Linked DNA regions of Homo sapiens: region 2 is linked to region 1. The links come from fine-mapping of genetic effects on gene expression. Tissue or cell type: monocytes. Region 1 holds a variant in brackets; the other region holds the start of a gene. All regions are shown on one strand. Distances are from middle to middle.

Region 1 (8,113 bases):
CTAGATAAGAACCACAAGTTGAGATTTTGGAAGTATGTTTAGGGGGCAGGACTGGTATCTTCACTTGCTATTGGCCAGTTGTTTGAAACTCCCACTAGATATCACAACTTGGGGAAGCATGATTTGACCCACATAGTATGAGCAGTAATAAAATGATTTAACCCACTCCTGTCTTCCTAACCTGGTTGGGGGAAAGGTTGAAGACAGGAAAAGATCCAGGACTTCACCACATTTTTCATTTTCTAATAGTTGAAAATCATTTTTTTTTTAATTTTGCCAACTAACTTTCCTCTCATTTCTTCTAAGGAAAATTGAGCTAAACCTCTTATTTGACAACACTAAATCAGATTCACAGTTATGACAATAATAAATTAATCAAAATATGACTATTAAATATCTAAACCACTCAGTTTTCTCACTATCCTTCTGCTATAGGAGCCTGTGGCTGTGTGTGAGGGGCTTACTACCGAGCCCTCTCAAAACAAGATGAGTAATACAAAAAAGGGGAAATATGAAACAAATCAGCAACTTTATTTCTTTTTCATCTTCTTTGCTTAAAAAGCAAAGGAAAGTTTTTTTTTAAACTATATTAAGGCTATAATATAGGTTATAAGGTTATTAGGTTATTTAAATTGTTCTTTTTTTTTTTTTTTTTTTTGAGACGGAGTCTTGCTCTGTCTCCCAGGTTGGAGTGTAGTGGCGCTATCTTGGTTCACTGCAAGCTCCGCCCCCTGGGTTTACGCCATTCTCCTGTCTCAGCCTCCTGAGTAGCTGGGACTACAGGCGCCCGCCACCACGCCTGGCTAATTTTTTGTATTTTCAGTAGAGATGGGATTTCACTGTGTTAGCCAGGATGGTCTCGATCTCCTGACCTCGTGATCCACCTGCCTCGGCCTCCCAAAGTGCTGGGATTACAGGCGTGAACCACCGCGCCAGGCCTAAATTGTCCTTTTTTATACTATCCATGGTCTAAGTTACTGCAGATGACCTTTAGCTTAAAATTTCACTCATAGATTTATTTTTAATTCAGATTTAGCACATCACTATGAAAATGTGACAGTTAAAATATAAAATATCTCTATTTTTTATACCTTAAATTCTGGGCATATATTTCAAGGTTCACAGATAATTTAATTGCTTTCTAGAACTATTAAAAGGAGAAGGGAGTTACTTCTATTAATGGTAGAAAAAAAGCCAACAAGTAGAATTAACTTTTTTTTTTTTTTTTTTTAGATGGAGTTTTGCTCTGTTGCCTAGGCTGGAGTGCAGTGGCACCATCTCAGCTCACTGCAACCTCCACCTACTGGGTTCAAGCGATTCTTCTGCCTCAGCCTCCTGAGTAGCTGGGATTACAGGCATGTGCCACCACGCCCGGCTGATTTTTGTATTTTTAGTAGAGATGGGGTTTCACCGTGTTGGCCAGGCTGGTCTTAAACTCCTGACCTCAGATGATCCACCCACCTCAGCCTCCCAAAGTGCTGGGATTACAGGCTTGAGCCACCACTACTGGCCTAGAATTAACTTTTAACCATACATAAATATTTCTAGCCCAGTCAAGTGAGAACAATCACTAGTATAGTGATTTAATCTTCATATAATTTTCTCTTTGGGGATTGTGAAGTCATTCCTGATTTTCTTTCTCTTTTGTGTCTCAATTCAGTTAGTCACCTTATCCTAGCAGTTTTCCCTTTGAGAATCTGTCCCTTCATTTTCAATGTCCAGGTTCTCATGTCTTCCTACTTAAACTGTAATTATTTTCTCTTGAATCTTCTTGCCTGCAACATTCTCTCCTCCAATATAAACAACAAACGTTACCATACAACCTTCCTAAAACACAGCTTTTACCCCAGGACTCACTACTGAAAACATGTCGGAAATTTCTTCTTGCCTACAAATCCTAGCTTGTCAGATAAGGCTTTCCATAATCTTAACTCAACTTCCATTTCTGAACTCATTTCTCACTATTTTCCAACATTATCATCCTTCAAATAAGGTTTGCACACAACTTTCAGGGTTAGGGAAAGAATGTCCTGTTTGCAGTCTGAAGTTGGCTGGTAGGTAAATGTGGGACTCCAGATGACTAATTTTAATATCCTGATCTTCAGTTTTTCATGTCTGCAAAAATAGGGGGAAGACCTAAATCAAGGGCTGACCACGAACTGAATTTGGTGAGAAAACATGTTTGTTTGGCATGTATGGTGCTTTACAAAAATACTGATTTCTAGTACTTTAAGGACAATATAGGCTTTTTTTATTGCCATAGGCCCCTACACTCTCTCGTGCTTCCCTCTGATATTATGTCAACTTCACTCTGATATTATGTCAACCAGGCCCCTGAAAGCAACCCTACACTAAATTACTTCAATTCCCTACCAGCTCTATCATGGTGTATTTCTATGAGTCACATCTGGTATCATTTGCATGCACTTTCTCCACTCTGTGTTTCTGGAATGCGTGACTCCCCTCATTTCAAAGGTAAAAGAATAAAGGAAAAAGGACACTGAGGACATCAAAAGACAAACTTTGCTTTTGTGGCCTGTGGGCTTTTGTGGACTATGATAGAAAGTAGTAAGTTCATTTGTGAAGAGTTTATGGAAGGCAATAAGAGGGAGTCCAGTATTTTATTATTTCGGCACGAACATCAGTTCTTACACCGGGGGCAGGTGGAGGCCAGGGTGTAGACTTCCCTTTCAGTCATTTCTCTCATAATGAACTCTGCTGTTATCACCCAGGAAATCCTTTGACCCAGAATGAGGCAGTATCTCAACCGACTTACAAATAAAATATCCTTATGTTACGAAATGTTCTTCTTCATTGATAAGGATGCTTGGATTTAAAAATCATAGAAGTGGAAAACTGGAGCAATCACCTAATTGAGCAGGGAGACCCTCAGGCTGTATTGTCTTTCACCCACCCCCACTTCAAATTTGGCAGCTTTCTCTGTACATCAGATAACCCAGAGTTATTAAACTCTTCCCTGTATTGTTTGTTTGAGTGTTATTGATCTTCTGCTCTTTTAATTATTTCTTTTTAAAGTAGCTTTCAAAGCTTTCTTTGAAGTTGGGGGCCGAAGTTCACTTCCACTGTGAGGAGTTGAATTAAATTGGATTTTTCTTTTTTTTCTCAGACTTGGTTGGTAATTGAAGATATATCTTAGCAGCTGAACTACAGTCTGGAATATCTGACAGTTCAGGGATGTTGACTTTCACTTGCTCCCTCTCAGCCTGTTCTTTGTCCCCTCACTGGATTTGTAACACATAATAGCAGTCACTGAACTAACTTCCCGGGATATTTTTGAATGGAAAGAATCTATTCTTTAAAAGAATTCTGCCACCAGTTTACTTTTTTGCTTTATTTAATTGTGAAAATTTAAGTCAGTCTTGATCTGGCAAT[T/C]GAAGCCTTAGGCAATTGCTGTTTATCACACACCAGATAACCTTTCCTGTCTTATGAGCTCTTTCTGAATGTACAATTGAGGCAATTGAGATAAACCGAAGTAGCTTTGATGGGTGTTTCCAGATCTAATCTAGAAGGAGGGTAATTCTTCTCAAAGTGCTTTTGAAAAGCATTTGTTCTCCACGTCACAAAACAAACTTAAACAAAATTAAGAGCAATGAAGGAGGGACATCTATTTCTCCCTGGTTTGAGGAGATGGGATTTTTTCAAATGTTTTCCATCCCCTAGATCACGCTCTGGTCCTTTTATGACTAGTCACTTACAAGAGATTGGGTGTTGTTAATGACCTACAGAAGGAAAATGTGCTTTTATCTCTGCAGAGCAATGATGTCCTCTGCATGAATGGCCACCATGGTCATTACATTGGATTGGTTTTGCTGAGTGATGACCTCAGCACATAACCTGGCCACTTAAGTCAGGGAGAGAAGGAGAACTTTGGACATTCTCTGCACAAGCTCATTTTCAGTTTACCCTCACATTTTATTTCCTTGTCATCTCTAGTTTCTGTAGTTCTCTCTAAACCCTGACCCAGCACTTGTGCTCAGAATACGATTTCTTTTTGCCTTATGATGGCTGCCACAATTATCAACCATCTGCCTCTGCACTCACACACTCATGCCAGCATTTTTACTTATCAGTCTATTCACTTCCTATTCAAATTTCTTTCTTCTCTCCCTTTCTTCATACCTCTTAAACCAGTGTTTCTCATAGTATGGCCTTCAAATCATCTACAACAGAATTCCCTGTGATAATTTTTTACAAATCTGGATTCTGGGCGCCATCCCTTACATCAGATTCAGTGGGCGTAGGGCCCAGGAATCTGACTTTTCACACACCTCAAGATGATTTGTTCACACACTAAAGCTTAAGGACTAAAATCCTTCCTGCTTTAGCCTGTGACGTAGCTCTCTCTTCCTTTTGCTGGAGGACTCCTGACACATGTGACACACTCAGCCACCACTTCTCTTGGTGTCCTTCCTTCCTAATTCTTCACAATTTCTCACTCTTGGGAAAAAAAAAAAAATCTTCCCAAGGTCCCGAAAGGACAACTCTGATTTATCCCTAGTAGTACTATCTACTCACATTTTAAAAATAGGAGTCAGTGCTTGGCTGCAAATAGAGCTGACAAAGTTGAAGCATAAGAACATATTTTACTCAAAGTATAAGAAAATTACGCTATTTTAGTTCCCCTTCTTTTGCCAACTGAGTTTGAGTGAAAGAAGACAAGCATCATGTGGGGATCCACTGAGAGGGAAAATGAGCAGATGAATAGACCTAAAGCCACTTTTCCTAAATCAACAGTAAAATTGTGCAATATACAATATTACTGCAAATCTGCTAATATAGATGGAAGATAGCGAAGATTTGATGTTTCCTGGAGACTAAACACTCACTGAAGCAGGAATTATGTCTAATATTATTTCATTGGCTTTTGTGGATGCAAAAAAAGACATGAGAAATGCATGGCCTCTGTTCTTACAGAATTTATAATCTATTGAAAGTTGCTTATTGAAATCAAACATTATGTATATCAAGGACTGCAGATGGCGGTTATTCAGATTGTTATACTATTACCCTTGTAAAACCTGATAGAATAAAATAATAATAGCAAAACATAGTTATTCCAGCAAATTTAAAGTGCTGTGTGAAAATGTTAAATGAGACTACCTGGTTTATTTAGTGTGATGGTTAATTTTAGATATCAACTTGACTGAATTAAGGGATACCCAGACAACAGGTGAAACATTACTCCTGGATATGTCTGTGTATTAGTCAGGGTTCTCCTGAGAAACAGAACCAATATGAGATAGATAGATAGATAGATAGATAGATAGATAGATAGATAGATAGATAGATAAAAGGGGGGTCATTATGGGAATTGGCTCACATAATGATAGAGGCTGAGATGTCCCACCATATGCTATCTGCAAGCTGGAGAACCCATGAAGCCAGTGGTGTAACTCAGTCTGAGTCTGAAGGTCTAAGAACCGGGAGAGCTGATGGTGTCACTCAGTCTGAGGATGAAGACCTGAGAACACCTGAGAATCTGGCGGCCTGCTGATATAAGTCCTAGAGTCCAAAAGCCAGAGATCTTCGAATTCTTATGTCCAAGGGCAGGAGAAGATTAGTGTCCCACCTCCAAAAGAGAAAGCAAATTCATTGTTTCTCTGCATTTTTGTTCCCCCTAGGTCCTCAACCACTTAGATAGTGCCCACCCACACTGGGTGAGGCAGATCTTCCTTACTCAATCCACTGATTCAAATGCCAATCTCTTCCAGAAATGCCCTTACAGACTTTCCCAGAAATAATGCTTTACCAGTTTATCTAGTTATTCTTAAATGCAATCAATTTAACACCTAAAATTATCCATCACAGCCTGTGAGGGCATTTCTGGAAGAGATGAGCATTTGAATCAGCAGGCTGAGCAATGATTTGCCCTCACCAATGTGGGCAGGCATCATGCAACCCATTGAGGCCCCTGATAACCCTGATGGAGTGACACTATCATCTCTCCTGATTTTCAGATCTTCAGACACAGACCAAATTTTACCACTGGCCTCCCTGTTTCTCCAGCTTACAGACGGCATATTGTAGGACTTCTCAGTCTCTATAATCATGTGATTCCTATAATAAGTCTCATCTCTCTATCTATCTATCATCTATCTCTTTAGATATATATATATCTCTCTCGATGTATAGATTTATATATATAGAGAGATGTATATGTTGAGAGAGAGAGAGGTGTATTTTATTGGTTCCATTTCTCTGGAGAACACTGATGAACACATTTAGATTCTATTTTGATGTTGTTGGAAAAAAACAATATAGAATTAAGTCAATGTAAAGTCATCAGTTGAAATGACAGTGTTATTTGTTATCATAAAAAATAGTAAATAAATTTCCAACAACGATTATTGGTTACATATATTTAATATATTTAATGATATTAATATGATGGAAAAGTATGCAAGCTTTAAAAAGTATGTTTTGGGTAATGTTTAATGGCATGGAAGAAATGCTGACAATATCATTCTGTTAAGTGAAAAAACTTAAGAAATAAAAATTACATATATGTATGTGTGTGTAAGAAGTAAATGGAAATAAAAGTCACGGTGGTTAATCTGGACAGTCAGTTACAGGTTCTTCTTTATCTTTCAATATTTTCCAATATTTATTACTGAATGTTAGTTATTTATATAATCAGTTATAAGAATATACCTTCAAAGGTGGCTTCACTTATCAACAATTCTATGGTCTTGAAAAAGGAAAATTTTACCTCCAAATGGTGTCTTTTTTTTTTCTTCAAGTAATGTCTTTTAATCCACAAAAAATTCTATTCAGAGGATGTACACGAAAAAGGCACACATTTATTCTTTTACCTTCTCTTACTCTTGGGCAACGCAGTTGACTTCCTTGAACGTCATGTCTACCTTGTGCCAAGTGAGGTACTTACAAGAATCTGATGGAAGCTTTAAAACAAGAGAGAAGAGAAACACTATATCATCTGGCAATATGTAGTTCTTTTGCTTCCGTGTGTAAAAGTAATGCAAATCCATGCCAAACACTTAGCCAAATTGAACTCCAAATATCTAATGGTGTGCTCATGGAAATCATCTTATCCAATCTAAATTATGTGTTCTTATTCAATTTTGCATCCCCAACACCTGCAGCTGTTTTACATTTGATGGTAAATGACAGCATGAATAAATATATGTACCCATTCATGATCCCCTTTAGACCAATTTATATAAATCATCCTTTAATATTTTTTAATATCTCACGAGCAGTCTCATTCCATTTATAACAGTTCTAATTGTTAAAATGTCTTCATTACATGGACCCTGCTTATTACATAATCCCTCTAACTTGCTCCAATTGTACAAGTTCTATTTTTTCAAGGCTGCACAGAGAATCCTTCCACGTATGCTTACTGTTTTAAATGTTTAATTATAGTTGTCATTCTCTTCCTAAGTCATTCAATTATTACTCATAGATAATGGTCTATAAATTAGTAAATATTTTGGTGGTTATTCTTGGAAAGAGTTTCAACTTACTGACATTGCTCTGAAAATGTGTAGATCAAACTGAATGAAATATTTCAGGTAAAGCTATCTTTTTCTGGACAGTATATTACTGACTAGAACATGTACCAAGATCACATTTGGGGCAATTTTAATTGTTTACTAACACTGAGGTTGTAGTCAATCAAAGTTCCAGTGTTTTATATAACTTGTTATTATTTCAAGGTTAACACAAACAAAAGGCACATTACTTGAAAAGAATATTATATTAAATATTTACACCATAGATTCATTCTTCTGTTAGCCAAAGTTAAACATGTGTACAAACAAACTCAGAATATTTAGTTTAAAAAATGTTAAGTATTTGGAACAAATACTCTGTTCTTTAGAGCAGAATTTGGCAAGTGCTGCCCCAAAATAAGTTGAGAAGAGCTGGCTTTTTAATAATAATTTAACTTTGATATTTTAGCTGCATTACTTACTCACTGAATGACCTTGGCCTTGCTCCAATAAATATCCCAATATCTTCATTTAAAAAATAGAACTAGTAACAAAAGCTGTCTACCTTGTTATCAGTAACACTAAAAAGTTAACTTATGCTTGAGCAATTCTTGGAGATATTCTGAGGATTTGTTAAT
Region 2 (8,113 bases), 190 kb before region 1:
TCCCTTAGGAATAATTCTAAAATTAAACGTTGAATTTCTGACCCAGAACTTGGCATTGGATACTTTATAAATATGACCAGCCACCCTCATCACAATTAAAAAATTACTATATGTTATAACATATTAAAATTGTAATGCCAATTTTATAAAATGGTCATGAGTAAACTAAGTATAGCTTTCATAAAAATCAATCCAATAAATTATAATATTTTGGGGGAGGGGACATTAAAAAATGTCATGTTTTACTGGCCACTGATCTTTTCTGTGGTATCTCTGCTTATCTAAAGTCTTTGACTATTAAAGGCAGTGAGTTGGTGAGAAGCTGGATGAGCCATTGGAAGATTTAGGAAGTTCACTTCTGAGGCTCACATATGCTCCCTTTCCATTCTTTCTAACTTCCTATGAAATTAAACTGAAAAAAAAATGTGGTAGTTAGCTCATTATATGCTAGCTGTAACAAACATTAAGCAACATATTCATAATGATTTCGTATACTGCCTTAGAATTTGGAAAAGTTTAGGGTTGGCTAGATATCCTGCTTTAGAATGTTGTTAGAGGTTTGAAATGATAGTTCCTCTTCCTTTAGACTAGCTACACATCCTGTGGCAAATAGGGACTTCTAAATCACGTCCATTATTAGTAGTCTGTATTCAAAAGGTATTTATTTATTTTTATTTTATTTTATTTATTTTTTTTTTGAGATGGAGTCTCGCTCTGTTGCCAGGCTGGAGTGCAATGGCGCAATCTCAGCTCACTGCAACCTCCGCCTCCCAGGTTCAAGCGATTCTCCTGCCTCAGCCTCCCGAGCAGCTGGGACTACAGGCACACGCCACCATGCCCAGCTAATTTTTGTATTTTTAGTAGAGACAGGGTTTCACCATGTTGGCCAGGATGGTCTCGATCTCATGACCTCGTGATCCGCCTGCCTCAGCCTCCCAAAGTGCTGGGATTACAGGCGTGAGCCACCGCACCCGGCCTCAGAAGGTATTTCTTAGTGATATTGATGGTAAGGTTTCTCTCATTGAAAAGCATTTTTATAAATAAGAACAAATCATCTACTTTCTCCTCTGCCCTCCTCTTCAGATATAGTTGAAAATTACAAAGGTGGCAACGTAGTGACAGATGTAAACAAGGCATAAAGATACATTGAGTGGGGTTCAGTTACTCAGTTATGCATTCAACCACAGACCTACTTTTTAGTTTGTTAATCTTCTAACAATTACTACTAGGTCATTATCAAAATCCTATGAAAAAGGAGTCTCAAAACATCTTTCACAAAATGTTCAAAAAGACATAATACCTTGAATGCAGCTTTCTTTACCTCTCAAAACAGGTCAGGTAAAAGTGGCAATCAGCAAGGCAAGTGTATTCATTAGGGGACAGCAAACTGATGAAATGGCAAAAAGGTGAAGACATCATAGAGTGAAGATTGTTTTATAGGATAAATAACTTTTGTAATTGTCAGATGAAAAGATTAAAATTAGTTTATTAATACTGAAAAGCTATTTTAAATTTTATTTACTATTCATCACCTTTTCTTAGGTGATGATTTCTCCTACAAATTACAAAATATTGAGTTCCATTTGTAGTAAAGAAATTTAAATAAAAGATTTAGATAATAGAAATTATTTACTCTAGGATCCTAAATATTATTAATTTAAAATCTTACTTTTAGAAATTATACGTCAGCTGTCTCTCTCAACTTTTTATTTTTTCCTTCCCTTATTTTGAAAATGAACAAATTTGATTAAAATGACAAATTCACTTAAGTTAGAGAGAATTAATATTCCCAAATGTTATATTTGCCCTTCTCAAATGTAAGACCTTGAGTATCTTTAAGTTAATTTCTTCCTGCCTCAGAAATAAAATACTAAATCAGTAAAATTCTTCAGGGTTTATAATTTAAAGTTAAATATATTGTTAAATATATGGAATATAGAAATATAATTATATATACTATTTTTAAAATAACAAAGAAGCAAAAATAAAATAGAATGAACAACACACCTTCCAAGACCAGTATAAACAGCTGTTATGTTATAATTGCTACCCAAAGGCAATGTTATGTAAATTCATTTTATAGGCCTTGGATAGCTTCCTCATGTTGGCCGCTCAAAAGCTCTATACTGACATTTTCAGGAAACTAGCAGCATACTTTACCTTGGAAATGTAATATTATAAAAATACCACCATTAGTAATTTTATGTACTTCTACATACCCTTCTTGAATTTGAAATAATGGATAAGTTCAGGTAATAATTTTTGCTGTCTTTCAAATTTTATGACTAAAATATTGAGTTGTGTTTTATGGCCTGCATTTATTATGTTCTGTAGAGTCAGCCAGCAGCTTTAGGCAAAGAATATCTTTGGAGTCTGGAATCAGATGCAAAGGAATCAGAGGTTTAAGATGAATCATACATTCAGGAAACATAAGAATTTTCCAAAGATTCTAAAATACATATTGTACAATATATGAGCAATAATTTTCCAACCCTCTATACAACTTCTTTTTCTTTTGTGGCTAGGATAATTTTCTCTTCAAATATGGGGCAAGATTATTGCCATAAACTTTATTTATTTATATATTTATTTATTTTGAGACAGAGTCTCACCTCTGTCGCCCAGGCTGGAGTGCAGTGGTGTGATCTTGGCTCACTGCAACCTCTACCTACCAGGCTCAAGGGATCCTCCCAACTCAGTTTCCCGAGTAGCTGGGACTATAGGTGCACGCCACCATGCCCAGCTAAATTTTTATATATTTTTTTTTTTGTAGAGGAGGGGTTTTGCTATGTTGCCCAGGCTGGTCTCATACTCCCAAACTTAAGCGATCTGTTCGCATTAACCTCCCAGAAGTGCTGGGATTACAGGAGTGAGCCACCATGCCCAGCCTAAATTTGGATAGTGTTTTTGGAGGAAGAGTTTGTTTAACAAAGTACTCTGACAACAGTAAGGAATGTTTAGTTATGAGGAATTTTAAAGAGATTCCAGTAATTATCCAATGTTAATTTCTGAGAGTCAAACTAAAAAAGAGGAATTTAAAGTGGTAGATTTAATAATAAGGAAGATTATGTAGTATTTACACAACAAAACTCCCAAACTCCTTTAGACTGTTTTCTTTTACAATCAGATTCTCATGTTAATGGAGATATAATTTCTTACTGTAACTTGTTTAATAGAATGAGAACATTGTTTCTATTGAAGAAAAAGACATAGAGCAGGGTTTGGATCTGGATTCTAATCTTGCTGAGTAACTAACTTTATGCAAGACCTAAAAGGTCCTAGAGCTGTCATAGTCACTTTGATAAACTTTGGCTTCTTTACCAACATGAAAGTCTAACACCCTGGCTGTGATCAGTGAGACAGTGTATCTGCACACGAAAGCATTTTGAATAATTTAACGCAAGTTATTATTTATTAAGGAAAAGCACATGCAAGACACACTTTATTTTTACAGTGGTATAAATGCCACAGGGTAGCATCGTTATAAATTCAGTTTATTTTAGGGCTTTAGCAACCTATAATTTCAGAGTCCACCTAAAAAAACTTTTGCACCAGGAACTGTCTTTCTGTTGCATTTAGCTAAAGAGATTTACCCCCATTTTGAGCACTCAGGCCCATTAGCAATGGTAACGACTAAAGTCCAGTTAGAATATAAAAATTATGCAGTGTATCATAAATTACACCACACTATACAGACAGATAAAATTTACTTTTCTTAGAATTCAGGTCAACAGCAGAAACAAAAATTATCATTTGTGCATAACCTTAATTATTCCCCTCAAGTACACAGAAAAAATAAATGCAGTATACATTTCTTCGAAGAGGTTTGTGGTTACTACCTTTCCTGTGCTGTACTAGTTTTTACATAGGGAACCTTTGTTGCCCTTTAAAATGTAATTTAGAAATGTAACTGATGTGTTTTGCCACCAATAAAACAAATACATATGACAAAATGAATGGATACTCATTTCAGTCTGTACGATTTGTTTTTAAATTATTCTATTTGCAGCTAGAGGAGAAATGTGAGACCATTTCTTTCCTCTCTGCCAATGGCAAGCCGATTTCCCCAGCCCACGTGGACAATTGAACATTAAGTCTAGCGTGCTTCCAGTCTCCCGACTCCTGCCGGGCCATCTGTGGGCACACACACATCTAGGCTAGTACACTGGATGGGGTAAGGCAGTCGACATGGCATCTCTGGTTTGACTACCGGGATTGTGCTATGTAGCTATCCCATGTGTCTGCCGCATCAGTTTATTGGACAGGGAAAGAAAGTGTACTCAGCAGAGTGCACACAGTTACTGCCATCCATTCTTTCGTTCATACACACATTTTACTCCGCTCTCCACGTGCGTTCCGAACGAGAACTGGAACACACACACACACACACACACACACACACACGTGTTCACCGAACCTCACCCAGACTCAGGCCCGGACAAGTCCCCCGCCCACCCAAAGCTCCCCGCCCTTCGCCCTTCCGCCTGCCTCTTCCCACCCTCTCCGACTCCACGTGGGCGCACCCCGGCGCCAGGCGGCCGCGCTGCCCACAGAGCCCCTAGCCGGCCCCGGCACTGGGAGGGAAGGTGCGGCCCTGGGGTCGGACGGACAAAGCCGGCATCCAATCGAGCCCGGCACTGCCTCCCCGAAGGGAGGGAGCGTCTGCTCGGACGGGCCCAATGAGCAAGGAGGCCGAGTGGGACTTCCTCCCGGAATCCCGTTGGCCAGAATAGCCGGGCCGTGGGTGACACGTAAGTTGGGCAGGAGGTGGCGGGGCGGCAGAGGCACCAGCCGACCCGTCAGTGACACCGCTGTGCCGTCCCCAAAACCAGCCGAGACAGCTGGCCCCCACCCTTCCACCCATTGGGCAGGCCGCACGGGGGCGCGGCCCGGAGTCCTGGTCCCTTTGTTGGGCGCGCACCCCCTCCCTTAGGTGGCAACAAAGTCGTGCAGTGGGAGCCGCCGCGATAGGGCGGGGAGTGGCCAGGGCGGGACTCCAAGAACTGCCCGGGGGCAGCGGGGCCAAAAAGTGGGAAGAAGGAAAAAAGGCAGGAGGCATCTGGGGACAGGCGCGAGGGCAGCCGGCTCTGAAGTATGCGGAGGGCCTCCTCCCGGCCCCGGGCATTCGCGGAGAACGAGCCTCGCAGAAGTTTGGCTGCAGCTGCCCGGGCGGCGTCGATGGCTGCGCGCCCCGCGCCGCGCGGGGGCTGAGCGGGCGCCACTTCCCCTCCGGGCCGGCTTTTGTGTCTGGCATCTCCTCCTCATGCTGCGTCTGGCCACCTACTGCGGCGGCCGCTGCTGAGACGCTCGCTCGGACCAAGGGGAGGAGACGGCGGGGGCGGCCGCGGCTTTGGGTCCAGGCGGGACTATGGGAAACGGGATGTGCTCCCGAAAGCAGAAGCGGATTTTCCAGACGCTGCTGCTGCTGACCGTCGTGTTCGGCTTTCTCTACGGCGCGATGCTCTACTACGAGCTGCAGACGCAGCTGCGGAAAGCCGAGGCGGTGGCGCTCAAGTACCAGCAGCACCAGGAGTCCCTCTCCGCCCAGTTACAAGGTACGGCTAACGGGACGCGCGCAGCCGGTGGCCAACTTTGCCCCGCGCCTCCACCCGGGCAGGAAAAGTGGCTTTGGTGAGCTATTGGCACTGTGGTTGCCACCTCTGACCTTCAGGGACGTCAGAGGTGAGCGTTTCAGGACTGCCGGCACCAGAGTGTCAGGGGAGATGACATTCTCATCCTCCCGCTTCTTCCTCCCAGCGGTTAGGTTTAGAACTTCGTAGCACCAGCCCATCGTCCCGCTGGGCGTTTGGTGGGCGGGTGCACAGATAGTCCTTTACCCGAGCTCTTGTCAAAGGCCCAGCTGCAATCGGGGCAGGGAAACTGGTAGCCCTCCGCCGCTTCTGCCAGCCCTGCTCTGAGGAGCATTGTTCCGTGGATTCTAGGTATTTGCTTTCTTGTTGACTTTGTCAGTTGCTTAAAAAATGAAGAGTTTGGCAGAGATTTCTCAAACTGTGCTGTTTTTCAAGGGAAAATTAAGCCATGACCCAGCAGCTTAATTAAAGTCATGGCCCAGTCGAATGGAAGGAACCTAGATCTGGACCTGCTAGTTTCTTATTTCTTATTCTTTTAATTTAATAGGATGTCTTTAGAGATGCTGGATGTGTGGGAAAAGTCCACACTACATACCATTCACCATCCTGCAGTAGTTTATTTCTTTAAAAACAGGTTTACTTGTCTTCCTAAGTAGCTTTTACTTCATCACAGAGATGCATGTATGTTACAGTTAGCTTCGGGAAGCCAAAGAGGAGAAACACAGGTTTTCACTTTGCCATGCACAGCAAACCCAACTTGAGCAAGACCTGTAGAAGAACTTAAAGTTTCTATCCTATTTTAGAATCTAATTTAATGTAATTTTCACAAACATAATTTACTTTAAATGTAAATTCAGAATTTGAATTTGAATTTACTTTTAACGTAAATTCAAAGTCAGCACCATGTCCTCTTGTTAAGGACGTATCCTATACATATTTTTTTTGCAAGCTTTTACTTGTGGTTAGTTTTCAATACTTATGCAGCTTTCTCCCCAACCAAAAAATAATAATAAATAGCTGTAAGTGGTGAAATGTTGGCAGACTTTGCTGATGATGCAAATATAGCTTGTTTAATATTGCTAGGTAGATAGATGCAAGCTAGAGGGATGTTTCTGTGTATGTGTGTGCAGATATGAAACAGATGCCTCTTCTTTGCTTCAGTTATTTTGAGTGTTTTCTAGTAAAAAATTTAAGATGAGAGAAAATGATACACATCCGATTGTTTGGACTTAACTTGCTCTTCCCAACTTAGAAGAAAGAAAAGTATTTTTAGCTTACTGACGCTGCATAGCCACAGGCAATGAAAATATATGGCTCGGCTTGGTTCAAAAGTAAAACCCGTTTTGATACGCTCTTAGGTTCACAAAATTTTCTTTAAACTCATTGAAATTTACCCATGAGTTATTGTTGGTATGAGAATATGGATATTTGTTTACTTATTTATTTACAAGGTATCAGTTGCTTCCCTGTGAAGTTCCATGGAGTCAGACCAAGGGAAAAATTTACCGTCTAATAGTATAACAGGACTAGATTTTCATAAACATGGCTGGAAGGGGCATGTATGGTGGATTATATGAGGTTGTGTGTGCCTTGGTCTCTTAGGAGTCCCATGAGGGCAAAGGCTGTCATTTTCACCATTACCTCCTCAGCACCACACTGTGCCTGACACTCATTAGGGGAATCAATGCATGTTTATTCAAACAACAAACAAAAATTATTCTGAACTGTGGCGAGTAAGTTCATCCCAGGCACTTTTGTCTTTCTGAGACTTTGCTTCTGTGTCTTTGCTTTTTGAAAGCCAAATAAAACAAGAAAATATTTTGTTCAAGTAGCTCCTTTGCCTCAACGGCCTATGATGGACGATGGATATTGTTGACTGAGGCCCTAATTTCTGAATAATGGCCTTTATTTGCAGTATTTCATTTTGAAATTTTAGAAATTTCTTTTCTAATTTGCCTTTTCTTTTTTTAGTGGTGGTGGTGGTAGTGGGGAAGAGAGGTGGTAAATGGTAATACAGGATCATTAAAATATACAACTTTTGTTTTGCAGCAGATGGAAATGTTCTACCTAATTTGAATAAGTGGCTTCAAAGTCCCTTTCTTAATTTATTCTTTTGTCATTTCCTCTCTAATTATGGTGCTACAAAACTTGCAGTATAATTGTGCATGAATAATTATTTCACAAGCAGGCTAAAGTATTTTTTTGTTTGTTTTTGTTTTTTGTGGATTCACTTTTGACTTCAGTAGCATTTATTTTGGATTTCCCATGTGTAAGCCATTTAATGTACATTTTCTGGTGGTATGCAACTTTTGCTTCCCTTTTCCAAGACAAATGACATTTTACTCAACAGCACTGTGTACCACCTGCATAGATGGGCTTTTAGGACATCAGGCTCTCCAGTCTTAATACTTGTTTAGTTAGGTGGGATTGCTTGACCTGGCTTGGATTAAGATCAGAATTAATGACTTTAAAAAGAGTGGTCTTTTTAAAAATGACTCTTGAAAAAATTTCAGTAGTTTAGA

Evidence for each region. PIP is the estimated chance that this variant, and not a neighbour inherited with it, causes the effect.
Region 2: GOLIM4 starts here. The variant in region 1 is fine-mapped to the expression of GOLIM4 in monocytes (Fairfax 2014, PIP 0.95). The same link has a PIP of 0.9 or more in B cells.

What each region holds. Positions count from the first base shown.
Region 1 is chr3:167,904,673-167,912,785 of GRCh38, reverse strand. It overlaps the pseudogene LRRC77P. Among named protein-coding and RNA genes, the nearest start is that of SERPINI1, 170 kb to the right of the region's middle. The variant T/C (reference allele first, on the strand shown) is at 3,394.
Region 2 is chr3:168,092,541-168,100,653 of GRCh38, reverse strand. GOLIM4 (golgi integral membrane protein 4) reads left to right here and starts at 4,730. Exons shown (of 16, transcript NM_014498.5): 1 at 4,730-5,555. The coding sequence starts at 5,369. RefSeq lists enhancers at 3,955-4,004, 4,202-4,703 and silencers at 4,375-4,614, 4,905-4,954.